Homo sapiens: one gene and its partners. The protein of the gene in region 3 binds, or shares a complex with, the protein of the main gene of each other region. Each region holds a gene or a part of one and is shown on either strand. Other genes may lie near its edges.

Region 1 (7,031 bases), on a different chromosome or scaffold from region 3:
GAGCCTGGAGGAAGGGTGTCAGGAATCCCAGGAAACGAGGTGACTGGGGTACTCGGCAAAGTCCCGGGGGTTACCTAAGAGACAACAGAGAACCTTTATCTGACTTCTCAAACTATGGAAGGTTCCCTACTAATCTGTATGGGTTAGTGTGTCTAACTATTATTTTATTAGTCCTGAGTGGAATTGCCCAGAAACCCTCTATCCCTCCTGCTCTTAGCCATACTTTTCTTCCCCACAATCTTCTCTTTCATCCACTCAAACCCACAGTGACTCAACCATCCCACCCAACCTGCCTTTTATGAACTCCTTACCCACTACCAATATTACATTTACAAGGATTTTGTCCCTTATTTCAGCAGGAATTTCATAAGACTAGTATGAAACAATTTCTTAAAATAGTTTTTTACCTATCTCTCAAAAAGGTCAAAAGCCTCAATGCTTTTAGGTCCGTTCTTATCTCAGAGCACAGAACATGGTAAATTAAGTCTTTAGCATTCAGATCAAGAGAGGAAGTTGCCTCTAGGCCAAAAGTGGTTTCCTCATCGCTCAGCTCTGCCGGCTTATTGCCCCTTCACTGATCAATTCCCACAGATGGAAATATACTCACCCCAGAGGTAGCCTCTTCCATAGTGGTTGGAGTCAAGTCCCCAAGTGGATAATCACCTCCTGGGGAGGCAGAATCTATAGGAGAGCGAACCATCACAGTGGGTAACCTCCGGGGGGGTGTTTTTACTGCTTGACGAGCTAGAACATAAAAGAGAACAATGTCCAAATCTTCAAGATTAAATAAATGAAACTTGACACTAGTCTGCTATTATACAATAAAGGACAAATAGGTATGTTGCATTACTAAAGCAGCATAATAAGTTTGGATTAGAAAGCTTTAACACTTCTAGAGATGGATAACTTTTTAGCCTAATTTTTCCTAAGGGCAATTCTCACACTAAGAAACTCCTTTAACAATCTCAAACTACTTAATTATCCCAAAGGTCCTTGGAGTGGGAAAGTAGTTTAAACATCCTTTAATATTCTCTTTAGCAACTTACTAATATTCTGCTTTTAAGAACAGGAAGGCCAGGTGCAGTGGCTCACGGCTGTAATCCCAGCACTTTGGGAGGCCAAGGCAGGTGGATCACCTGAGGTCAGGAGTTTGAGACCAGCCTGCGAAACCCCATCTCTACTAAAAATACAAAAATTAGCTAGGTGTGGTGGCAGCCGCCTGTAATGCCAGCTACTCGGGAGGCTGAGGCAGGAGAATCACTTGAACCCGCGAGGCGGAGGTTGCAGTGACCCAAGATCGCGCCACTGCACTCCAGCCTGTGCAGCAAGAGCAAAACTCCGCCTGGGGGAAAAACAAAAAACAAAAACAGGGAAAGACCTCACTGGCGCACAGCATGTATTCCTAGAGTTGTAAATGCTTAAATTTCTCCTCATCTAATGACTGAGCTATTCTCAATCTTTTCACAGGCCCTTGACTTCTAAAACATTATGTTCAATATCTCATCAAGCCTTTGTGTCCTGAAGTTAATTTAAGGTCTAGTGAGATCTGAGCACAACGCATGTTCTAGGAGTTTCTTCTTAAGACATTAAGGGATGTTTTTATTCTGGTAGAAGAGAAAACTGCAAGTAAATTTAAATCAATGTATTCTATGTTACAAAACAGTCCAACTGTCATTAGCATGCAGTACTGTGCAATCAATTGCTAAAGAGGCATACTAGGTTCAGCTTACCCTGGTATGCAGCATCTGTAGCCTTCCTCTTTACTTCAGCCTCCTCTTCTTCCAATTTCTTTTTCCTAAACAGGGAATTAAGGGTTAGATGCTAGACAGCTCTGGCTCCTCCCCAGAGTTCACAGAACCCTTACAAAGTAATTTTTTTTGCCAGGCCAGCACTTTCTGGAAGAAAGGCCTAAACAGGAATTCTAACCAGCAAAACAGTGAATTGGGGTATACTGCCTAACTCCCAGTTCTTCACCCAGGCAAACTATAGCCACTCTTAAGTTAGAACTAAGTTATGTTTTCATACTGAAATGTCCCATTATATTACCTTCTAGGACTCACTCCCCCCTCCCAGCCACCAAACCACTTTGCAGCTTTCCCCTTCCAGAATCTGTCTCAAGTCTAAAGGGACGGCAATTGGAGGAAATAAGCCAGATTACTTGAGGGGAAAAGAGGGTAAAAAGAAAGAAGCACAGAAGAACAATATAATATAACCCACGTTGCAATGTCATTGCAAAGCTCATCCAGTCTGCTGTCCATGTGTCCAGCTTGAATTAGTTCTGCATCTCTCTTTAGCCGTCTATAGGAAGAAAGAGAGGTAGGTAGACTGGGTTTTTTAATCTGCTATTTTAAAAGTTCTGACCAGTACCAGAAGACAGTCCCTTATGTCTTTCTCAATTTTTTGGCATTCTCTCTGATAAGTACCTATATCTCTCCTGGGTTTCCTTTATCACTTTCTTTAGTTCTTCAACTCGCTCAGCAGTCAATTTCCGAACAATAACATCTTCAACAGTTTCCACCACTTCTCCCTTTTCACCTCGTTTCCGTCTGTGGAAAATTGAAAAAAAAAAATTCATATTCAAATAACATAACATTTATCCCCTCTCCTACTTGCTTTTACCACTTAATCATAGATAACTTCTGCTATTTTTTAATCATCCAGTATCATAACTAAGTATAAACCAGAATTCCTCAGTAAATACTCTCCACTAAAGAAATATGGCTGAAGTACCTGGCTTTGTACTCACTTTGGTGTCTCAGTGGTCTCTAAAAGCTCCGAGTACTGGGAAGCACAATGCTATTAAAAAAAAAAAAAAAAGTGAAAATGTGATGAGCAAGGCTGGAAAGAAATGACCTTTCAAAGTTTCAAGAGATTAGAGTAAGATTTAGAGAAGAGAACTATATGTAAGACGGGAGTGGTTTACTAGGAGGGCAAGTAACTTTATAATCAAATCAGTTCAAAATAATCAAAACAAGACACAGAAAAAGACAGTCTTATGGACTGGAGTTTGTGCATTTGCGGAAAGGCAACCTAACTGCCAATATTTATAGCTAATATCTACCAAGTAGTTACTACATGCAAGGCACTGTGTTAAATGTTTTACATGTATTACTTCAATTAGCTTCACAACAATCCTGAAGCAACTCTTTTATCTCTATTTTACAAATGAAAAAACAGAGGATCATGGCCCAAAGTTTTTAGATGGAGTAATAATGAACCCAGATCTAATTCCCAAGCTTGGGCTCTTAACTGTTATGCAACACCAATAAGAAAGGTCTAATATGATCATACATGGATGGATTAGCAAACAGTAGGAAAAAGAAAAAGGTATTCTCAACTATTTTCCCACATCATGGTATAAAAGCTTTGTAACTAAAAGTCAGGGCCTGGTAGAGAACCTACTTTACAACCCAAAGACTGCTCTAAAAGAGCCCTTGCTTGGGAACTTACTTTTTGAGAGAACCAGTCTGGAGGGCGGCCAGGTTCTGCAAAGGGCTTGATTGCTCTGCTAACTGATACCCTACAAAATGAGGAAAGCTTTATTACACACCAAGCAGAAAACAATAGGAGAGGTATGCTGAGAGTGCAAGGCTTGGAGTTCAAACTTTGGAATAAAAAAGATGCGAATGGCCAGGCGCGGTGGCTCACGCCTGTAATCCCAGCACTTTGGGAGGCCAAGACGGGTGGATCACAAGGTCAGGAGATCAATACCAACCTGGCCAACATGGTGAAACCCCGTCTCTACTAAAAATACAAAAATTAGTTGGGCATGGTGGCATGCACCTGTAGTCCCAGCTACTCGGGAGGCTGAGGCAGGAGAATCTCTTGAACACAGGAGGCGGAGGTCACAGTGGGCCGAGATCTCACCACCGCACTCCAGCCTGGGGACAGAGTGAGACTCCATCTCAAAAAAAAAAAAAAAAAAAAAAAAAGCCAATGAATGCGAGGTGTGCAATGGACCGTGCCTGTAATCCCAGCACTCTGGGAGGCAGAGGTGGGAGGACAGCTCAAGCCCAGGAGTTCAAGCCACCCGAGGAGATCCCATCCCTACAAAAAAAAAAAAAAAAAAAAAAAAAAAAAATCGACAAGGTATGGTGGTGCGTACCTGCGGCCTGTGGTCCCAGCTACTTGGGCAGCTGAGGTAGGAGGATCCCTTGAGCCCAGGAAGTCAAGAGGCTGCAGTGAGCCCAAATCGCGCCACTGCACTCCAGCCTGGGTGACAGAGTAAGACCACCCCCTCCGCCATTCAAAAAAAAAAGAACAGCATATATAGTATATAATCATTTGTGTTAGAAAATGAGGGGGATGAAGGGGAAAAAGAAAATATTTGCTCACATAAAATTTTGCTGGAGAGACACAAGAAACTGCTAACACTAGTAGACGGGGGATAGTAACGGGAGGAAGACACTGCATATAATTTTGAATCTTATGACTTAGTATCTGCTGATAAAATAATAAAATTTAAAACTTTTACTCAAGTATTCTTATACTATTTTTCTATGGCTGGGCGTGGTGACTCACGCCTGTAATCCCAACACTTCGGGAGGTCGAGGAGGGCAGACTGCTTGAGATGAGGAGTTTGAGACCAGCCTGGCCAATGTGGTGAAACCCCACCTCTACTAAAAATACAAAAATTAGCCAGGCATGGTGGCGTGCACCTTTAATCCCAGCTACTCGGGAGGCTGAGCCAGGACAATCACTTAAATCCAGGAGGTGGAGGTTGCAGTGAGCCGAGATCGTGCCACTGCATTCCAACCTGGGTGACACAGTGAGACTCCATCTCAAAAAAAAAAAAAGATTCTTAACACTATTTATCTAATAAAAATGTGAGGAAATATACAGATTAGATTCTATTTCAAACCAGTTTACCTGTTTTGTTTAAAAATGAGCTCAATTTATATACATATACAAATATATGTGATGTGTATACACACACACACACACACATACAAAACACACATTGTTTTTGTTTAGACAGTATCTCACTTTGTCACCCAGACTTCAGTGCAGTGGCACAATCATGGCTTGCTGTTGCTTCCACCTCTGAGGCTTAGGCAACCTCCCACTGCAGCCCCACCCAAGTAGCTGAAATCACAGATGCACCATCATGCCTGGCTAATTTTCTTTTTTGTAGGGAACAGTTTCTCTTATGTTGCCTCCCTGGCTCAAGCCATCCTCACACCTCAGCCTCCCGAGTAGCTGGAACTATAGGCACACACCACCAGACCTGGCTAGTATTTTTGTGTTTTTTTATAGTTTTGTCATATTGCCCAGACTGGTCTCCAATTCATGATCTCAAGCAACCTCCTGCCTTGGCCTCCCAAAGTTCTGGGATTATAGATGTGAGCCATTGCACCCAGCCCCATTCTATTCTCTAGTTCTGTGAGGTCTATAATTTTTCCTAGATTCCACATATAACTGAGATCATATGGTATTTCTTTATGTGTCTGGCTTATTTCACTTTACATACTATCCTCCAGGCTCAACCATGGAATCACAAATGGAGGATTTAATTCTTTTTTATGGCTCAACAGTATTCCATTGTGTGTGTGTGTGTGTGTGTGTGTATACATATATATTTTTTCTTTACCCATTCATCTGTTAATGGATACTATAATAATTACCTTAATTGTGGATAGTTTCACAAATGTATATATATTTCAAAAATACCATGTCTTATGCTCTAAATGTGTGCACTGGCCGGGTGTCGTAGCTCATGCCTGTAATCCCGGCACTTTGGGAGGCCGAGGCAGGTGGATCATCTGAGGTCAGGAGTTCAAGACCAGCCTGGCCAACATGGTAAAACCCTATCTCTACCAAAAAATACAAAAATTAGCCAGGCATGGTGGCAAAGGCCTGTAGTCCCAGCTACACGGGAGGCTGAGGTGGGAGAATCACTTGAACCTGGGAAGCAGAGGTTCCAGTGAGCCAAGATTGCACCACTGCACTCCAGCCTGCGCAACAGAGACTCCATCTCAAAAAAAAAAAAAAGGTGCAGTTTACTGCACATCAATTATATCACAAAAAAGTTGTTAAAAGGGAAGAGATGTGACTTTTCTTACCAACCCCCTTCCTTCTTGTTGCATGGAACAAGGATGTGATAGCTGAAGGTCAAGCAGCCACCGTGAACCATAAGATAACCAGAAGATAAACTATGCACTGAGGAAGGTGGAACAGAAAGAGAATATCCTGAGCCTCTAATGTCACTGTGAAGTTGCTATGAGAGCTGTGGACTGCCTAGACTTCCTGTATGTGTGACAAAAAATAAACTCAAGTTTTTTTTTTTTTTTTTTGAGATGGCGTCTTGCTCTGTTGCCCAGGCTGGAGTGCAGTGGCACGATCTCAAATCACTGCAAGCCCCGCCTCCTGGGTTCACACCATTCTCCTGCCTCAGCCTCCTGAGTAGCTGGGACTACAGGCGCACGCCGCCACACCTGATTTTTGTATTTTTAGTAGAGACGGGGTTTCACCGTGTTAGCCAGGATGGTCTCAATCTCCTGACCTTGTGATCCGCCCACCTCGGCCTCCCAAAGTGCTGGGATTACAGGCGTGAGCCACTGCGCCCGGCCTTAAACTTAAGTTTTTAACCCATTTCTTTGTTGCTATTGCTTTCTATATAGTGTTTTTGTTTTTATGGTGGCCACATATTACTTCAAAAATTAGATTTAAAAAACAAACAAAAAAAATGCTAGGAAGCATGACAATCAGCAAAGTACTGAATTGTTTATAAATGTGGCAAGAGAGTTAAATTCATAATGGATGATTCAAAAGAAAGGGGGTGAGGGGCTGATACCGAGAAAGGTAAAATGATGATAGTTCTAGGCTGGGAGTGATGGCTCACGCCTATAATCCTAGCACTTTAGGAGGCTAAGGTGGGAGGATCACTTGAGCCCAGGAGTTCAAGACCAGCCTGGGCAACAAGTGACAAAAAACACAAAAAATTAGTCAAGCATGGTGGCAAGGGTCTGTATTCCCAACTACTCAGGATGCTAAACTGGGAGGATCACTTGAGGCCAAGAGTTGGAGACCAG
Region 2 (7,031 bases), on a different chromosome or scaffold from region 3:
TTTTTATTTGCTTAATTATAAGAGGGGTGTCTACCTATGTTGCCCAGGCTGGCCTCAAACTCCTGGGCTCAACCTCAGCCTCCCTAAGAAGCTAAAACTATAGGCACCACCATACTGGCTCTAAAACAATTCCTTTAAAATGCAGGAGATGGAGGAGATTAAGCCTAAACCATAAATTTGCTTTGTGTTTTTTTTTGATATCCTATATGGTCTTTCCCACTCATAGTATGCATAAAATTAAGATGTTATCTTTCCTGTAGAGAAATGAAATTCTCCTAACACTCTCAACTTTATCTGGATATTGTCAGAATATCAACACACAAAATATAAGTCTAATAAAGATTGAAATGCAGTTTTAGCAAGGCATTGTTTAGTAATAAAAAGCTATGAGATACACTAGGAGTCACTATTTTCCTGTTTCCTAGATATTAGAATCCATTTAGTACTAAAAGCACAGTTTACTTCTACCAAGACAGTTTTCTCCATTATTTTCCCAACTTCTCAATATTTAAAATACAAGTCCATGAGGTTGGAGTTACCTATCATTATTAAATATTACCTATCATTATTAGAAATACATGTTGTTGTTTCTTTTTAAAGGAGTCCAGATCTTGCTCTGTCACTCAGGCTAGAGTGCAGTGGCACATCATAGCTCACTGCAGCCCCAAACTCCTGGGCTCAAGTAATCCTCCTGCCTCAGCCTTCCAAGTAGCTACAGGTGCACACCACCACACCTCACTGATTAGAAATACTTTAATTATCATTAACTGGGAAAAAAATACCCACAAGTTGTCAGGATGCACTTCTATGCATTTCAGATTTCTACCTTTCCACATTTATATTAATGGAAGTAAAAGGTCTGATAAATTCTCAGCTGAAAACATCTGATACGTGAAAACAACTTCCTAACAAAGAAATAAAATTAACTGGGTTGGTCACCTGGATAGAGTACTAGATGAAACAAGACCAAAGTCACAGGGCCAGTGAACTTCACAGGAAAAATAAACTCCTTCCATAGTAACAGAATACTCATCAAATCAGATGGCACTGATCCCATAGTAAACCAGGTAAAAGAGCCTGAGTCAGGTGACACAAAGCCTTAAGTTACTAGAGGACAATTCCACAAGAACAATACTAAATAGCAATGGCAGTGCTATCTTTGAAGGACAAGGCATCATTAATAAAATGTAAAACCTCCCATAGTAAAAATTACAAGTCTTTTCATTACAATCACCAAATAGGAGACTTGGGTAAATTTTTAGACAGGGTTATTTGTGAGGCCCAAGGAGAAAAGTCCCATCACTGAAAAACAGCTCCACTGGATGGACATTCTAGAATGTGTTCAATCTATACCCACTGTCCATTCCTAGAACAAGATCAATAACATCGGTACTTTACATACACACACACACACACAAAAAGGCCGGGCAGTGGCTCACACCTGTAATCCCAGCACTTTGGGAGGCCGAGGCGGGTGGATCACCTGAGGTCAAGAGTTCAAGACAGCCTGGCCAATGTGGTGAAACTCCGTCTCTACTAAAAATACAAAAAATTAGCTGGGCATGGTGACAGGTGCCTGTAATCCCAGCTACTCAGGAGGCTGAGGCAGGAGAATCACCTGAACCCCTGAGGCGGAGGTTGCAGTGAGCCGAGCTCACACCATTGCACACTCCAGCCTGGGCAACGAAAGCAAAACTCCATCTCTCAAAAAAAAAAAAAAAAAAAGGCTTAACTCTTAGGGGTGAGAAATTAAGACTCTATAATTGAATGTTTCTGTGTTAAACCATGCTAAAAAGTGAGTCACATGAAGTCATTTTCGGTCAACACTAAATAATGTTTCCAAAGTTCAGAATATGGACTGGTAAATTCTGTCTTTATTTCCCAATCAAGCAACCTTTATCCTTTCCCCTTTTCTAGACAGAAAACCCAACTAGTTTTTTTTAGCACAGCTGCTTGAAATAACATATATAATCAACATGTTTGTGGTAAGGCCAAATAATTCAGGCCATCCTAAAAATGTACCAAAACCAGGAAAAAAAAAAAAACAGAAAAATGTGATTGCCACATTCAACCAGAATAATTGATTGACTATATGACTAATAGATATTACACTAGAACATAACAAATATTCCCAAGATCCAAGTATATTTAAATTAAAATGGCTCAGTACCCTAATTTCTAATAGTTTTGTCATACTACAAATGATTCACCTTTGCTTCAATATGTACTATATTACATTAAAACTGCAGAATTGAAAAGCATATGCTTGCTAAGCCAGTCAGTGACACAAGCTATCTTGTTAATTACAAATAGAATTGTAAGATCTAATACTCACTTTTTATTCCAACCACTGTAATGTATGAAGTATTTCACTTGTTTGTCCTTTATGGCAACCTTTACACACTGAAATTCAAAAAAAAAATAATAATTCACTTAGAAATTTTTTAAAGACACTACCTTTTCAAATCATCCTTCAAAGACACTCTACACAAGCTTTATGGTGGCCTAAACAGAATGACTAAGAACACTAAGCTTGTAGAATACTCAAGTTACAAAACTGAAGATTAGTCACAAAAGGTCCAACAAAGCTGAGAACCACAAGCATAAAAGGTCACCTTAAATCTTTAATCAATGGATTACAAAAGCTATCCAAGGACAGCTAATGAAAGCTATGCTTGTGTCTTCTCAGTCTAATCAGCCAGGAGCTATATTTATTTCAAAAGCAAATTCCTCTAAAGCAAAGTCTTTAAACTATATTATAAAAAAACTTCATTAGCTTATGAAAGGCAGTAAATGGACCTGTTTCTGAAAAGTTAGTTTAAACAACTTGTAAAGCAATGAATTAAAAATATTTCACTTTTCTTAAAAGCAGCCAGACAAAAGGAATTACTAGAGGCAAGTCATTAACTATGACAAGTGATGACTATCTGGTTTTGGATTTAAAAGTCTTTAAGAGAAAACCAAAATAACCACAACAGTTTAATTTGTTTCAATAGCTTCAATTCGAAAATTGTTCACCAGAGTGTCAGGTGCCAGGAGAAAAATCAGCCAGTTTAGTAGAGTTTGCCAAACGTTGATACAACAATAACAACATTCAGGGATAAAAACGATTAACAGGACATAATTTTTTTTTTTTTTTTTGGTAGAGACAGTCTTGCTATCTTGCCCAGACTGATCTCAAACTCCTGACCTCAAGTGATCCTCCTGCTTTGGCTCCCCAAAGCCCTGGGATTACAGGCTTGTACGTCACAGCCCCTGGCCATGAGTCGTAATTTAGCACTTACAAACATTATATCATTAAGATGTATGTACGTATACATATACTTAGAAATTCCTGACCATCTCCATACATCCAAATTCAGTCATTTTAGGATTTCTTTTTTAAGAGACAGTCTCCCAAGGGGCAATGGCTCACACCTCTAATCCCAACACTTTGGGAGGCCGAGGCAGGTGGATCACGAGGTCAGGAGTTCAAGACCAGCCTGGTCAACATGGTGAAACCCCGTCTCTACTAAAACTACAAAAATTAGCCAGGTGTGGTGGCTGGTGCCTGTAATCCCAGCTACTCGGGAGGCTGAGGCAGGAGAATTGCTTCAACCCGGGAGGGGGACGTCACAGTGAGCCAAGATCGCACCACTGCACTCCAGCCTGGGCGACAGAGCAATACTGTCTTGGGGGGCGGGGCGGGGCGGGGAGCATAAAAATAAAGAGAGAGAGAGTCTCGCTTGGTTGCCCAAACTGGCCTTGAACTCCTGGGCTCAAGCAATCCTCTAGCCTCAGCCTTCTGAGTAGCTGAAACTACATGCATGTGCCACCGCGTTTGGCTCTTTAGAACTTTAAAAATACACTTCTGTGTATTTAGAACACAGGAAAAAAAAAAGTAGTGAAAATGGCTAATATTTAGTCAGAAATGTCTGACACTTTAAGGCTATTTTCAGACACATATAGCATAAAACTACTCACCAAGAATTTATGCAGAAATTACATAAATTAAACATTATACTGTTTTGTATTTTACGGGCTCATTTTTGGAGCTACGACTGTTTAAGGTATAGTCAAGTCTTAAATATTTGTACTAAAAAAGTTATCAGAAACAAAATACTGAAACTTTTTTTTACTTTGGAATGCATTCTCCTGCTTACCTTCAGCTAAATGTAAAATCAGTTTTTATAACTTGAGCACACCCTGATACAAAGGGGGCCTCCCAGAATACAAACTTTGCCAGACAAATCAACAATCAACAGTTAAATGTACTTATTTTTAATATTGGCTTTTACCTTTAACCTAATATAATTAGCTCAATGCTTACTCAGCATATATTACTTTTAAAAGTAACTTCAGCAATGTTTTCTCACCAAGTCATTAACCACAAAATGCTCTTTGTTCCCACAGCCCATCTTCCCCTTCTAACATTCCCCTCAAATGCTACTTCCAGATGAGTAAGAAAAGTGGAAGAGAGTAGCAATGTTTTAATTCATTTGAGCCACTAAGCAAAACAATAAGAATCTCAGAAAGATGAAGAAATTTATTAACTACGAACCTAAAAAAGGCAACTCTCTTACTGAGGCAACAACAAAATACTGTACTTGTATATTAAATGGCCAGATCTAACCAGTAGTTTTGGCCAACTTCTCAAAAGAAAACAAGTTTCATACCTTTGCTTCATAAAGAAGAGGCCCATGAAAGCACAGCACTCGCTCACCTGTAAAGGGAGAAAAAGTACTGAATTGTAATTTCTTCTCATATATAAAAAGATTAACATCTTAGAGAGTCATCACACTTTTATTAAGGTATTCCTAGCCAAATTAGGAAAAATGAGGACGGGTATACAGAGCACCACTTTGGCTCAAACTTCAACTATACCCTACGACAAAAACACGTTGGTATCCGATGGTAAAAACAAAAACAATTCATTAGCAGGTCAATCTACTTAAATAATCAAATCATCTATCACCTGTTAAGCACATAAGCGGACTCTCCTGCAAAGCTGTCGAGGTTGGTTGGTTGGTTGGTTTTAACTATATATCTGAAAATACAGTTTTTTAAATGCTTTCCTCATCTGTTTTTCTAAGTTGAGGACCTTTACTCTCCACTTGTATCTCTGCTTCCAACCCTTTTACTCAGTGAAATATCGTACAAATTAAAATATCAATATGCATCAGAGATTGGCTGGATTAAGGGGTCTCACTATGTTCATTCTTCAAATGTGGAATGATGTTCTAGGTGCTAAGTTGCTTCAATGAACAAAGAAATGAGACAATAAAGCCTAACCTTTGGAACGTAACAGTCTACGTTGAGCCTACTTCAAGACTAAAGAAAATGTCAGGACCTGGAAGTCTTGGAAGCAATTCTAGGCAGTACCTCAGATTACATTTGAGTGTAGCTTGAAAGATTTTGCACACATTATTTTCAGTCCACTTGGTTTCAAAAGACCCATGGACAACTGAAATATCCAAGAATGTCAGCTCTTTTTTAGCTCTAAAATTAAAAGAGCAGGCGGGGCGAGGTGGCTCACGCCTGTAATCCCATCACTTAGGGAGGCCGAGGTGGCTGGATCACCTGAGGTCAGGAGTTTGAGACCAGCCTGGCCAACAGGCGAAACCCTGTCTCTTCTAAAAATACAAAAATCAGCCAGGCATGGTGGTGTGTGCCTGTAATCCCAGCTATTCGGGAGGCTGAGGCACGAGAATCGCTTGAACCCGGGAGGTGGAGGTTGCAGTGAGCTAAGATCTTGTCACCGCACTCCAGCCTGGGTGAGAAGGAGCCGCCCTCTCAAAAAAAAAAAAAAAAAAAAAAAAAAATCAGCCGGGCGTGGTGATGTGCACCTTCAGTCCCAGCTACCAGCTACTCGGGAGGCTGAGACATGAGAATCGCTTGAACCCAGGAGCTGGAGGTCGCAGTGAGCAGAGATCACACCACTGCACTCCAGCCCGGATGGGAGAGCAAGACTCCGCCTCAAAAAAAAACCACTAAAATTTAAAATATTTTTTAAAACTATGTATTTTCAAGCCCCACCAAAGACCCATATTATTAGACTCTCCCAGAGCACGACCTATTAACTTTATTTTTAAATCAGTTCTATAATTCTTTTAAGTGGTCACTCTATAAAGAATCACTGCTAGAGGCTGCTGGACCTACGAATAGCATTTCTGAATTAAAGACGGAGACTGGAAAACGGGAAGATCAAAGACTTCTCCAACGGCCCAGGAACGAGAACTAAAATGGGTAAACTATACTGCTAATAAACAGCGAACAAGATCAGATCAGATCTGTGTTTCCTAATTTCACTCTCCTGGTACATTTTAAAGGCACTCTGAAAATGGCCTACCATTTTTCTCCCCTTGGCTGCTACTGCCGGAAAAAAAAGTGCACTGAAACCGAGGCCCTGTGACCTCCATTCTAGCTACGAGGCCCTAGTATTTTGTTGAAAAAATATACAGCTAGCTGAGGAGTATGACCCAGGACAGCAAATGCTCCGTCTCAAAATCTAAACAAAACAAAACAAAAAAGAATTTCCAATGGAAAACCAAGTCCAGTGCAAAGCAATCACTATGCCTTAAGAATTGCTTATACAACATATATTGCACGCCATTATCAAATAAAAAAAAACTTTTTTATAAGTTTACGAGTTGTTTTTTTTTTAACAAGTTTACAAGAATCATTAAAAACCCTATTTCTCGGCCGGGCGCGGTGGCTCGCACCTGTAATCCCAGAACTTTGCGACGGCGAAGTAGGCGGATCACGAGGTCAGGAGATCGAGACCATCCTGGCCAACATGGTGAAACCCCGTCTCTACTAAAAATACAAAAATTAGCTGGGCGTGGTGGCGCGTGCCTATAATCCCAGCTACTCAGGAGGCTGAGGCAGGTGAATCGCTTGAACCCAGGAGGCGGAGGCTGCAGTGACCCGAGATCGCGCCACTGGACTCCAGCCTGGGCGACAGAGCAAGACTGTCTCAAAAAGAAAAAAACAAAACAAAACAAAAAAACACTACTTCTCGCCACTCTTTTCTCTACCATTACATAAACTCT
Region 3 (7,031 bases):
TGCCTTATGGTTTGGGAAAACCGTAGTTTTCCCAAAAAACCATAATGTCATAAACTACATAAAATGTAACATGAATATTTAGCGTATTTACATAACCGTGGTATTTGCCGTGATCTTTTTCTTTCCAACAAATACAATTTTTGCCACTACTTTACCTTACCTATTGCCTACGTATCAAATTCATACTTCTCCCAACCTTTGCCATCATCTGCAATACATGTTTCGAACATGCTGTGTTCCATCAGCTCAGTTACTGTTGCCTGTATATTTTATCCTGCATTTCCCCTATTTAATGATTTCATATCTTTATCCTTTAAAACTGTTCAAAAGTCACCATTTCAGAAAGCTTACATTGTTCAGCCCACAAATCCTTACTACTCTTTATTTGTATAACCCCTCACTCAGCATTATGGCTTTGTTTTCTACTATGTTAACAGTTTTCTGTAGTTTGCTTTCTGTGTATACGAAGACATTTTCATTATTATTTGTCCTATATTTATTATTTGTTGAGAATAAGGATTAGACAATCCCCTTTAAAAAAAAATTCTCTTCTAGAATTTTCATAGAAAATTAAGAAAATGGGAGGAGCCAGCAGTAAATACACTAATTGCAGTTGTAAGACTTCAGAAGTTGGAGAACTTCTGTTCTCTCCTTTTAATTGAAACAGAATCATTTGTGTGATTATGTTTAGATTGTAGGACAAATTTATGCTTTCATGGAGGCCAACTTCTCTAGACTTTACACTATAAGATGGCCAAACATAGAGTGTTGTGTCTCTTATGAATATGAATGCCCTCATTATAGCAATAAACTTCTTTTTAAAATTTCCCCCAAAACTGCAAATTTGTTGAACATGGTTTCTGGTGTATAATTAATTCATGTCTTTGTTGCAGCAAGATAAAGCCGATCTTATCCGACCGAAACGGAAATATGAAAAGAAGCCCAAAGTCTTACCATCGTCTGCCGCTGCTACTCCCCAACAGACGAGTCCTGCTGCACTGCCAGTCTTCAATGCTAAAGATCTGAATCAGTATGACTTTCCCAGCTCAGACGAAGAACCTCTCTCCCAGGTACAAATACAATTCTCTATGAACATTGAGGAGGGATGTAGGAAGTCACGTATCTGACCTACTTTCTTTATTTCATTTAAAGGTTTTGTCTGGCTCTTCGGAAGCTGAGGAAGACAATGATCCTGATGGTCCTTTTGCTTTCCGTAGGAAAGCAGGCTGTCAGTACTATGCTGTAAGTTTCAGAGTGTCTTTGTAAATAACAAACTATTTACCTTTAACTGACAAAATTAAATAATTTGGATTTTTTTTTTTAAGCCTCACTTAGACCAAACTGGCAACTGGCCTTGGACTAGTCCTAAAGATGGAGGATTAGGGGATGTGCGATATAGATACTGCTTAACTACTCTCACCGTACCCCAAAGGTGTATTGGATTTGCACGAAGACGGGTTGGGCGCGGTGGAAGGTAAGGTATTTCTGTATTCCTAGCAGAAGGATATTTTAGGCATTAGGGTGATTGAATCTAACTTTTAAAGTCAGGTAATCCCTCTGAACAACTCATTAGTTCCTATTTGCTATTCTTAACTGATCTGTTGACTAAAATATTTTTGTTGCTGTGCTGCCTGGTTCTTACACATCCATAGTTTTTGACATAACTCTATTGGGTCCCTAGTGGACCTGCTTTTCTCCCCAAGGTGGAAAACCTCAGATAAATTATCAAGGGGTAGAATTGTGAGAAAGGGCAACAGATGAAGACAAGTGTAAATCCTGATTGCACACAGTGTATTAAGTTAAAGAAACTGCAAAAAAGTTGTTTCACACTAGCTAGTATAATGGGTTTAACCTGACAGTGAAAAGGATCCATGCATAACCTGATCTTGACATCCCAGTTTGTTAGGATCTAATTGTTCTTCCTTTGTTTAAACCTTGTAGAATTCCTTCCTTCATACTCTAAATGCCTTTATGCGAGTTGCTTGTATGGGGACAGGAAACAAATAGCAAAACACATAAACTCAAGGAATGGAGAGACGTTAATGTATAATGTGCGGGGAAAATTAAAAGGGAAAGCAAATAATAGTATCAAGGTGCTTTTTCAGGAAGAAACCCAAGCGTATATTTATGATAAACTAATGGCTTATACATATATTTTTTTCATCTTCAACTCTTAATTGCAGAGGGTTTTTTTTTATTATTTAAACATTGGTTAAGAATTATCTAGGCACTAAAATACATTTTATTTAGTCCGTTTTTTTCCATCACTGCTGACATCAGGAGCAGTGAAAATTCTCTACGTTAGCTATATTTTATTCTATTACTAACATTAATCAATGTTATTATTTTGACTTGGAGCCATTTATAATGTTTATATAAATAACATAAGAGGCCAGGCATGGTGGCTCACACCTGTAATCCCAGCACTTTGGGAGGCCAAGGTGGGTGGATCACTTGAGGTCAAGAGTTTGAGACCAGCCTGGCCAACATGGGGAAACACTGTCTCCACTAAAAACACAAAAATTAGCTGGGCATGGTGGCAGGCGCCTGTAATCTCAGCTACTCGGGAGGCTGAGGCAGGAGAATCACTTGAACCCTGGGGCGGAGGTTGCAGTGAGCCAAGATCGCACCATTGCACTCCAGTCTGGGTGACAGAGTAAAACTCCATCTCTCTCAATCAATCAGTCAATCAATCAATAACATAAGAATATATCCTCTAGAGTAGTGGATCTCAAATATTTTGTCTATAAGAAATGTTAATGGTATACTATGTTTTTTGTTGCTTTTCTTCTCTCTTCTCCCTTTCCCCCCAAAAGGAATGAAGTTTTTGCTTAAATATAGAATAAATGTGTTCGCAACATTTTATAAAGCATTCATTTTGGTGCTTTGTAATGGAAGTGAAAATCTTTAGTTGAAAAACAATTTGTTAAAAGAACTTTTATTAGAAATTGAGGTTGTAGCCTATAAAAACCAAACACTAAAATAATCAACTTTAAAGCTTTTAAATATTCAGTATGAGTTGGCCTTTTGGCAGTTGGGGGTAAAAAGAAAAAGCTTTAATATATAATCTTTGAATAGCTATTTTAAATAACTGTTTCTTGTCTGATTTTTTAATAGGGTCTTACTGGACAGAGCTCATTCAGACTATGACAGTGTGTTTCACCATCTGGATTTGGAAATGCTTTCCTCACCACAACATTCTCCAGTCAATCAGTTTGCCAATACCTCAGAAACAAATACCTCGGACAAATCTTTCTCTAAAGACCTCAGTCAGATACTAGTCAATATCAAATCATGTAGATGGCGGCATTTTAGGCCTCGGACACCATCCCTACATGACAGTGACAATGATGAACTCTCCTGTAGAAAATTATATAGGAGTATAAACCGAACAGGAACAGCACAACCTGGGACCCAGACATGCAGTACCTCTACGCAAAGTAAAAGTAGCAGTGGTTCAGCACACTTTGGTATGTTGACTGTTAATGATGTACGTTTCTATAGAAATGTCAGGTCCAACCATTTCCCATTTGTTCGACTATGTGGTCTGTTACATTTATGGCTTAAAGTCCTTTTCTCTTAAACAGTTAAAAAAAAAATCTTGGTCTAAGTATTTATTTGAATCCTGTTGCTATAGGAGTTTGTATGTGTGTGTCTTCATTTAAACATACCTGCATACAAAGATGGTTTATTTCTATTTAATATGTGACATTTGTTTCCTGGATATAGTCCGTGAACCACAAGATTTATCATATTTTTCAATAATATGAGAAGAAAATGGGCCGTAAATTGTTAACCATTTTATGTTCAGATATTTCTCTAGTTTTTACCTAGTTTGCTTTAACATAGAGACCAGCAAGTGAATATATATGCATAACCTTATATGTTGACACAATAATTCAGAATAATTTGTTAAAGATAAACTAATTTTTCAGAGAAGAACATTTAAAGGGTTAATATTTTTGAAACGTTTTCAGATAATATCTATTTGATTATTGTGGCTTCTATTTGAAATGTGTCTAAAATAAATGCTGTTTATTTAAAATATTCCTATAATCTTAGCTGTCTGTTTTAAAGCATAAGTTTGTGTTATTTGAAGCCTATATATTGTAGAAATTCACCATTGAATTATGTTACTACTGATTTTTGTAAAGGTAATCTGAGGACTATGAAGATATTTATCATTCCCCTAATTCACCCTGTAGGGTTATAGTTAAGTTGCTTCATAAATATGAACATTTGCTCTGATTCTTAAAGACCTCCAGAAAATGTTCCGTAAACTAATTTACTTGGTGGTTAAAAAAAAGTACAGTTGACCCCTGAACAACATGAGGGTTAGGGGCACCCCCCAATTGCAGTCCAAAATTCATGTATAACTTTTGACTCCCCAAAAACTTGACTAATAGTCTGCTCCTGACCAGAATTACCAATAACATAAACAGTCCATTAGTCCATTAACATAAACAGTCCAAACATACATGTTTTGTATGTTATATGTATTCTGTACTTCATTCTTAAAATAAGCTAGGAAAAAGAACATGTTATTAAGAAATTTATAGAGCCAGGCATGGTGGCTCATGCCTGTAATCCCAGCACTTTGGGAGGCTAAAGTGGGCAGATTGCTTGAGCCCAGGAGTTCAGGACCAGCCTGGGCAACATGGTGAAACCTCATCTCTACAAAAAATGCAGAAATTCACTGGGTGTGGTGGTGAGCGCCTGTAGTCTCAGCTACTCAGGAGACTGAGGTGGTAGGAGCCCAGAAGGTCAAGGCTGCAGTGAGCCAAGATCATGCCACTGCATTCCAGGCTTCACAGCAAAGCAAAACCCTGTTTCAAAAAAAAAAGAAATTCATAAAGGAGAGAAAATACATTTACTAATCATTAAGTGTAAGTGGATCATCATAAAGGTCTTTATCCTTGTCATCTTCACATTGAGGGGGAGGAGGGGTTGGTCTTGTCATCTGAGAGGTGACAGAGGCAGAAGATAATTTACAAATAAGTAGACCCAGGCAGTTCAAACCCATGTTATTCAAGGGTCAGCTGTACTTCTATGAAATGGAAGTCTTTCAGCTCATGAGAAAAATAATCACAATTCAGAAATCAGCTGGAAGATAAAGCTATTTTAGGGACTAACAGCTTATTTATAATCCCATTAATGTTACTGTCTTTATCACCAAAAGCCAGTTTCTCTCTACTTTTATAGTCTTAAGAATCAAAATAAAGAACTTTTCAATAAAGACTTACTTATAGTGTTAGTATAGAGGTTTTAACAGTATAAACCTGTCATAGGTTACCCTGATAATTAAGCTTTCTAAGCTGTAAAAATTCTTTAAGACTTCTCAGAAAATAGGCATGTTCCATCAATCTCCATCTTCTCCACCCCTTAAATAGAGAAGTTGAAGTGTATAACTATCCTAAATATTTAAGGATTTTATAATGCTCTTTTTTTATGAAAAATGTTTTGCTATACTGCTTTAGGCATATTAATAACAGTTGTAAAAATTGTTTGATTTGTGTTTGCCCAAAGAACATTAAAAGATGAGCATTACCAAAAGCTTAGCTGAAAAGAAATCATTAGTAACCTTGTAATTTTTCTTCTTTATCATTTCTTTCCTCCATATATGCGATACAACTATTTATTTATTTATTTAAGACAGGATCTTTCTCTGTCACCCAGACTGGAGTATAGTGGCACAGTCATGGCTCACTGCAGCCTCAACTTCCCAGGCTCAGTGATCCCCCAACCTCAGCCTCCTGGGTAGCTAGGACTGCAGGCGTATGCCACCATGACTGGCTAATTTTTTGTAAGAGATAGGGTCTATGTTGCCCAGGCTAGTCTTGAACTCCTGGCCTCAAGTGATCCTCCTGCCTTGGCCTCCCAAAGTGCTAGGGTTACAGGGGTGAGCCACTGCACCCAGCCTCAATACTACTTTTTAAAAATGAGTTTATCTATTTTTTTTCCTGTTGTCTTAATTATTTTCAATTTCTCCTTAAATTTTGCTAGATCTTCTAATACTTAGAGGATAGATACCTACAGACTACTGTAGGGTAACACTGTTCATTTATATTTGTGAATATTCCAGAGACCTAAAGCTTTTCTCTGCATACTTTATAAAGTATATTACAATGCAGCCATATCATAAGTGCATTTCACTTAATCCAACTCCAGGCCCCTGAAGAAAAAAAAAACAAAATTTAGGCCAAGTGTGGTGGCTCATGCCTGTAATCCCAGTACTTTGGGAGGCCGAGGCGGGCAGATCACCTGAGGTCAGGAGTTCCACACTAGCCTGGCTAATATGGCGAAACCTGGTCTCTACTAAAAAATACAAAAATTAGCTGGGCATGATGGCAGGCGCCTGTAATCCCAGCTACTCAGGAAGCTGAGGCAGGGAGAATGGCTTGAACCTGGGAGTCAGAGGTTGCAGTGAGCCGAGATTGTGCCATTGCATTCCAGCCTGGGCGACAGAGTGAGACTCCATCTCAAAAAAAAAAAAGAGAAAATGTAGCAGCTCAAATGTTATACAGAATTCTAAATACAATTTACTGAAAGAATATATTCTCCAGAGTGAGCCTGGAGTAGGGGAAGTTGAATGTGTTGGTCCTCTTACGGCGTGAGTGCCCGCATTGCCACTTTATTCATAGGTTAAGCATCTTACCTCATTCAGTAGTAATTGTGATTTTAAAGATAATTTTTAATTTTCATACAGCATGGCCCCCACATACAAACCAGACTACTTCCTCTGGCACTTAACCAAAGAAACTCTGATGTAGTCTGATGCCAGCAGAAAAACTGGCAGTGTTGGGCTAATTAAAACAGAAGAGTCAGGCCAGGCACAGTGGGTCATGCCTGTAATCCCAGCACTTTGGGAGGCCGAGGCAGGCAGATTGCCTGAGATCACCTCAGATCAGGAGTTCAAGACCAGCCTGGCCAACATGGCAAAACACGTTTCTATTAAAAATACAAAAATTAGCCAGACGTGGTGGTGGGTGCCTGTAATTCCTGCTACTCGGGAGGCTGAGGCAGGAAAACCA
Region 4 (5,534 bases), on a different chromosome or scaffold from region 3:
GAGGTGGCTTTCCTCTGGCAGTTTGTGAGCAGGACCTTTCCTTTGGAGCAGTCAGGGCCTCTCCTGGGCCTTTCCTGGCACTTCTGCTGCTCTCCTGTGGCTGGAGGCCCAGCCTGGGCCTGCCAGCATCTCTTACCGCATGCAGGAGTGCTGTGGGGATGCATCAGGAGAGTCACAGATCTCCCTTTGTAACCAGCATTGGCAAATTACTGAAGCAGTTATGGTTCATAGTAGCAATTGTATATGTTACCTAGGAGATGGTGTCAATGGCCGGGGGCCTCATCGCCACGTAAGGGTGTCTTGCCAGGTGACTTGCAAGGGTGACTGCCAGGTTGAAGCCAAGGCATTCACTGAACGGAGGCAGAAGCAGAAACAGTCCCAGGCAATTCTTGGAAAACTGGCCCATTCTTACTGCGGGACATAGCACCTTACTGTTGGGTCCAAAACCCCATGTGTCCTGCCAAAAAAGGCAGCCCAGCACAGATGTGTTCAGGGCCAGAGACACCATTTGCCTACTGAATGACTTGAGCAATTTGGTGCATCTCACCGAGCCTTCACCTTCTCTGTTAAATGGAACATCTCCTCCCTCCTTTGCAAGATTGTCATTAGGATTTGTGAGGTATTGGCAATAACGGGCCCTCCCATCCTTCCCATTGCTGTTGTTATTACTGTATTCATAGCTTTGTGTGCTTCATAGGTACCCTCTAGGGTCCTCTACGTACAACATACAACAGCTTCGCAATAGCCAGTGTTGGAGGCTCCAAGAACGAGGGTCCTGTGGCTATGTGGAGAGTAAGCAGCAGAGCCAGGACTGCCACTCAGAGCTAGTTCACCCTTGCTGCCGCCATTCGAACCCAGAGCTCCTGGCCCAAACAGTCTGGAATGTTCTGTACTGTGCTTCTAGGACAGTGACTTGCCAGGCCAACTCTGGGCTGGGGCTGTCTTGGCTCTGTCAGGAGGGCCTCTCCTCAGGCTTTCTCTCAGGACTCGTGGCTTTGTTCCCGCTGGCCCAGGCGATAACCTCAGCATTTTTACTGGAGCCTGGGGCTAGGTTTTTAAACAAACTCAATGTAACTTGTGTACTCTGCAATCCAAGCCGACACCCTCATAAACTATCCCTGCAGGTTATTAAATGATTAAAGATCTCATTTATGAACTGTCCATTTTCGAGCAGCCTGAGACAGACGCTTTCACGATTGCTCTGACCTGCTGCTCTCTCTAGTGAGAGAGAGAGAGCAGAGTGTCCCTGACATTCTGGAAGCTGAGCCACAGATTCAGTGCATCTCACTGAAGGCGAGGCACTTAGCTTAAGCTGTCTCCTATGACCAGGCTCCAGGATTCAATATTTACATCTCCCTGGAGTTTCAGAAGGTCATCTGGGGACATTTTTCTTGGCAAGACCTGGTGGTTTCCTCAGTCCCAGCTGTGAGTGAGAAGCCGTTTTTACCTTGAAGCTGTGTTCAGGGGGGAGTTCTGTTGTGAGTCCCTCCCAGCTCCTTTTCTTGGTTGTCCTTGTACCATCCAGTAACTTCAGAGGGCCCCTTTTTGCCCAGCTGCATTTAGCTTTGGATTTCAGACAGTGAAGCCCCTCCTGCATAAGCTAAGATTGTTTCAGTGGAGCTCACACCCTGGCAGTTCACCCATGAGCCCAGCAGATACGTTTCATGTGGCCTATGCAGTGTTTGTGAAATGTTTGAACAAGTTGCTGACATCTAGACATCAGGACATTTCTTTCTTTCTTTCTTTTTTTGAGATGGAGTTTCTCTCTTGTTGCCCAGGCTGGAGTGCAACGGCCCAATCTCAGCTCACTGCAACCTCCGCCTCCCGGGTTCAAGCAATTCTCCTGCCTCAGCCTCCTGAGTAGCTGGGATTACAGGCATGTGCCACCACACCCACCTAATTTTTGTCTTTTTAGTAGAGATGGGGTTTCGCCATGTTGGTCAGGCTGGTCTTAAACTCCAGACCTCAGGTGATCCACCTGCCTCCGCCTCCCAAAGTGCTGGGATTACAGGCGTGAGCCATTGTGTCCTGCCAAAATCAGGACGTTTCGTACAAGGATCTGAGTTCTGAGCCTGTCTTGAGAAAAGGGAAGACTGCAGACAACACCTTGCAGCAGTGGTGGCCGCGGGTGGAGGGGCTGCCTCCCCAGGGTGTTTGCTGGCCAAGCATTTCACCCTCACCTGGCTCATCGCAGCCGCTCTGTCCTGCTGGGGCTTTCCAAGGCCTTTCCCATCTGTGGGCAGCCAATGTGCTGTCCCCCAAGCCCAACCGCGATCATCAGAGACTGGGCTCCCCCTGCAGCTCCTGCCCGCAGGGTCCCAGCCTGGAGAGCTGACAGGCGAGGCTTGATGTGGCCACCTCAGTAAACCTCTGGCTCTCCTCCCTCCTGGAAGGCTGAAGCTGGGACTCAGTCTTTCCCAGCTCCTGTGCCTCTACACTGGGTGTGCTTTTATGGCTTTAATTTCAACAAGGGCTTCTTGATATCTTGTTTACGAAGCTGCCAAAGTGAAAAATTCCTGTATTATATGCGGCTCGAAGTCCTGCAGTTATCTCAGCTCCACAACACACAACATCATTATCCTGGCTGCCCCTTATCACTCAGTGCTGGTACGCCTGCAGGATCCTGGTCCACCGTGTTACAGCATCCCCGCCGCCAGCCTGCCTCCCCTCCAACTCTACCAAGATCTTCAAACTGCAACAAGCGTCAGCCTCTTCTTGATAGATTAGATATCTCCCGGTGATGTTATGAGGCCTGGTAAATCTTTAAAAGTAACTGTTTTGATTTATTTAACCATCATATTTATCAAGCAAATAAAAAATGTCCCTTCTTGCCTGAGTGCTTGTAGGCAGTAGTGCCCATGCTGGAGAGGAAGGTTAGAGCCCTTGCAGGAGCCCCGGGTAGGTTAGAAGAGGCCCCAGTTCTCTGCCTGGGGACAGGGGACGGGAGGACATGGAGGCAAGAGTGAGCCACTTGGGAAGCTGCATACCTCCTTGGGCACCAGCCACACTTGAGTCAGTTGAATACAGCACACTGGCCGTGATGCTATTCATGCATACTGCAGGGCCGCACATGCCTCCTGGAGGGTGCCGGGCCGGCAGTGCTGGGCAGGCGTTGGCTCCCTGCCCACCAACCCAGGTCTCAGTTTCTCTTATGCTGCACAGTGAGAAATCTGAGCAACATTGTCTTTAAAGCACTTTAGAAATGGGGCACTTGAGGTCAGTCACCGTTGATCATGTTTTTTATCCTTTAAAAGATCATTAAAATCCGTGCCCAGACGGAAGGAATCAACATCAGTGAGGAGGCACTGAACCACCTGGGGGAGATTGGCACCAAGACCACACTGAGGTGAGCTGGTACCCTGGGCCCGCCGGGGCCTCCCCAGCACAGCCAGGGCCCTCGCTGGGGTCATTCTGGACAATAAAGGCAGGTCCCTTCCTAGGGCATGGGACTCTATCCATCCGCTCTTCCTGGCGCGATGGGTGCCAGGGCACTTGAGTTTCAAATGCAGAGGATCTATCTGATGGTTTTTAACAAGCTAGAGTAAGGGTGAAGTCCCCATGTCCTGCAGCAGATGCTCCCCTCTGGTGGAGAGTGCTTTGACCCTGGGCCTTCTTGTGGCAGAGAAGATGCACAGAACTAGAGAGCAGGGACCATGTGGTAGCTCATTAGCCAGGGCCCTGGCTCCTGTTCTCCCGGTGGTGTTATGAGGCCTGGTAAATCTTTAACTTTTTTGATTTATTTAACCATCAAGCAAATAAAAAATGTCTGGGTGGTGGATATGGAGAGCCAGGGAGGAGCGCAGACATAGACAGTTCTCCTAATTGTTCTCCAGCGGCTCAAACACAGGACCGGCAGAGCATGTCCCTTCACAGTGGCCTGACTCATTGTAAAATCATTGCTTCACAGTCCTCAGCCCTTCCCTACATCCCTTGAGTCAGTTCTTGCTCCTGAGGTTGAAGGCAGAAATGCAAGCTGTGAGGTTTGGATGAAGGGGTACTTTTTAAAACGGCAGAGTCTTCATGCCTTTGGATGGGCATGTACTTCCAGCTGGCTATGTTTTCATTTCCCTGCCATGTTAAATATCCCTATCTGTCGGACACCTGTATACATATAAGTTTGCAGTCCTTTTCCAGTAGCAGTGACATTACTTCCTACTGGAGGATTTGTAGACTGTACTAAAGATTTGGGGAATAGCACTTATGTCTTCTTGGTGGCTCCTGGACCCTCTCTGATGGGATAATGACTGCAGCTCTCTGAGAAGTGACAACTTTGTCTCCCCTTTTCTGTGTTCGTAGCAGCTGGCACAAGCCCAGCACTGGGCTCTGCTCCTGGTGCCAGTGCTGCCTACTGATGTGGGGGGAAGGTGCTTTCTTCGGTGGCCCCAGTTTCACTCCAGCCCTGGCCCCTGTCCACTCTAGGTACTCAGTGCAGCTGCTGACCCCGGCCAACTTGCTTGCTAAAATCAACGGGAAGGACAGCATTGAGAAAGAGCATGTCGAAGAGATCAGTGAACTTTTCTATGATGCCAAGTCCTCCGCCAAAATCCTGGCTGACCAGCAGGATAAGTACATGAAGTGAGATGGCTGAGGTTTTCAGCAGTAAGAGACTCCCCAGGTGTGCCTGGCCTGGGTCCAGCCTGTGGGCGCTTGCCCCTGGGCTTGGGGCTGCCGTCCCCACTCAGGCGTGGTCTGCAGCGCTGTCAGTTCAGTGTGGAAAGCATTTCTTTTTAAGTTATCGTAACTGTTCCTGTGGTTGCTTTGAAAGAACCCTTCCTTACCTGGTGTGTTTTCTATAAATCTTCATAGGTTATTTTGATTCTCTCTCTCTCTCTCTCTAAGTTTTTTAAAAATAAACTTTTCAGAACAGTTTTAGATGTACAGAGTCATTGTGAACATACAATAGGGAGTTCCCATGTATCTTGTACCCAGTTTCCCTTCTTGTTAACGTGTTACATCAGATAGCACATTTGTCACCGTGAATGACCAATACTGATGCATTATTCTACTGCGTTCACATTTTCTCAGTTTTACCTAATGTCCTTTTTCTGTCCCAGGATCCCATCCAGGATAACCCATTACAACTAGTTGTCATGTCTCCTTAGATGCCTCTTGGCTGTGACATCTTCTTAGATTTTCCTTGTTCTTGATGACCCTGACAGTTTTGAGGAGGACTGATCAGGTATCTGTAGAACATCCCTCAGTTGGGGTTTGTCTGATGCTTTTCTCATGAGTAGACTGGGATTGTGGGTTATGGAGAGGAAGACTAGAGGTGAAATGTGGTTCTGATCACATCGTATCATGTGTGGTTCTCATCACATGCTAGCAACATGACTCATCGTTGATGGTGAGCTTGACCCTTTGGCTGAGGTCATGTTTGTCGGGTCTTCTCACTGTAAAGTTACTCTCTGCTGCCTTTCCATACTGAATTCTTTGGAAGGAAGTCACTATATGCAGCCCACACTTAAGTGGCAGGGGTTATGCTCACCTCTAGAGAACTGAGTATTTACCAAAATTATTTGGGATTCTGCATGGAA

Evidence for each region.
Region 1: EPC1 (region 3) and BRD8 share a complex: the UniProt entries of both Homo sapiens proteins name them as parts of the nuA4-related complex.
Region 2: EPC1 (region 3) and MORF4L1 share a complex: the UniProt entries of both Homo sapiens proteins name them as parts of the nuA4 histone acetyltransferase complex.
Region 4: EPC1 (region 3) and RUVBL1 share a complex: the UniProt entries of both Homo sapiens proteins name them as parts of the nuA4-related complex.

What each region holds. Positions count from the first base shown.
Region 1 is NC_000005.10:138,168,615-138,175,645, forward strand, and holds part of BRD8 (bromodomain-containing protein 8), read right to left. Parts: intron 3,521-7,031; coding exon 3,451-3,520; intron 2,797-3,450; coding exon 2,747-2,796; intron 2,547-2,746; coding exon 2,424-2,546; intron 2,299-2,423; coding exon 2,218-2,298; intron 1,796-2,217; coding exon 1,731-1,795; intron 745-1,730; coding exon 608-744; intron 75-607; coding exon of another isoform or gene 1-74. UniProt on the Homo sapiens protein: May act as a coactivator during transcriptional activation by hormone-activated nuclear receptors (NR). Isoform 2 stimulates transcriptional activation by AR/DHTR, ESR1/NR3A1, RXRA/NR2B1 and THRB/ERBA2.
Region 2 is NC_000015.10:78,875,884-78,882,914, reverse strand, and holds part of MORF4L1 (mortality factor 4-like protein 1), read right to left. Parts: intron 4,703-7,031; coding exon 4,656-4,702; intron 2,404-4,655; coding exon 2,336-2,403; intron 1-2,335. UniProt on the Homo sapiens protein: Component of the NuA4 histone acetyltransferase (HAT) complex which is involved in transcriptional activation of select genes principally by acetylation of nucleosomal histones H4 and H2A.
Region 3 is NC_000010.11:32,281,137-32,288,167, reverse strand, and holds part of EPC1 (enhancer of polycomb homolog 1), read left to right. Parts: intron 1-893; coding exon 894-1,070; intron 1,071-1,152; coding exon 1,153-1,242; intron 1,243-1,325; coding exon 1,326-1,474; intron 1,475-3,117; coding exon 3,118-3,470; coding exon of another isoform or gene 3,471-3,583; exon of another isoform or gene 3,584-4,047; intron 4,048-7,031. UniProt on the Homo sapiens protein: Component of the NuA4 histone acetyltransferase (HAT) complex, a multiprotein complex involved in transcriptional activation of select genes principally by acetylation of nucleosomal histones H4 and H2A.
Region 4 is NC_000003.12:128,080,295-128,085,828, reverse strand, and holds the end of RUVBL1 (ruvB-like 1), read left to right. Parts: intron 1-3,254; coding exon 3,255-3,346; intron 3,347-4,419; coding exon 4,420-4,579; 3' UTR 4,580-5,019; downstream 5,020-5,534. UniProt on the Homo sapiens protein: Possesses single-stranded DNA-stimulated ATPase and ATP-dependent DNA helicase (3' to 5') activity; hexamerization is thought to be critical for ATP hydrolysis and adjacent subunits in the ring-like structure contribute to the ATPase activity.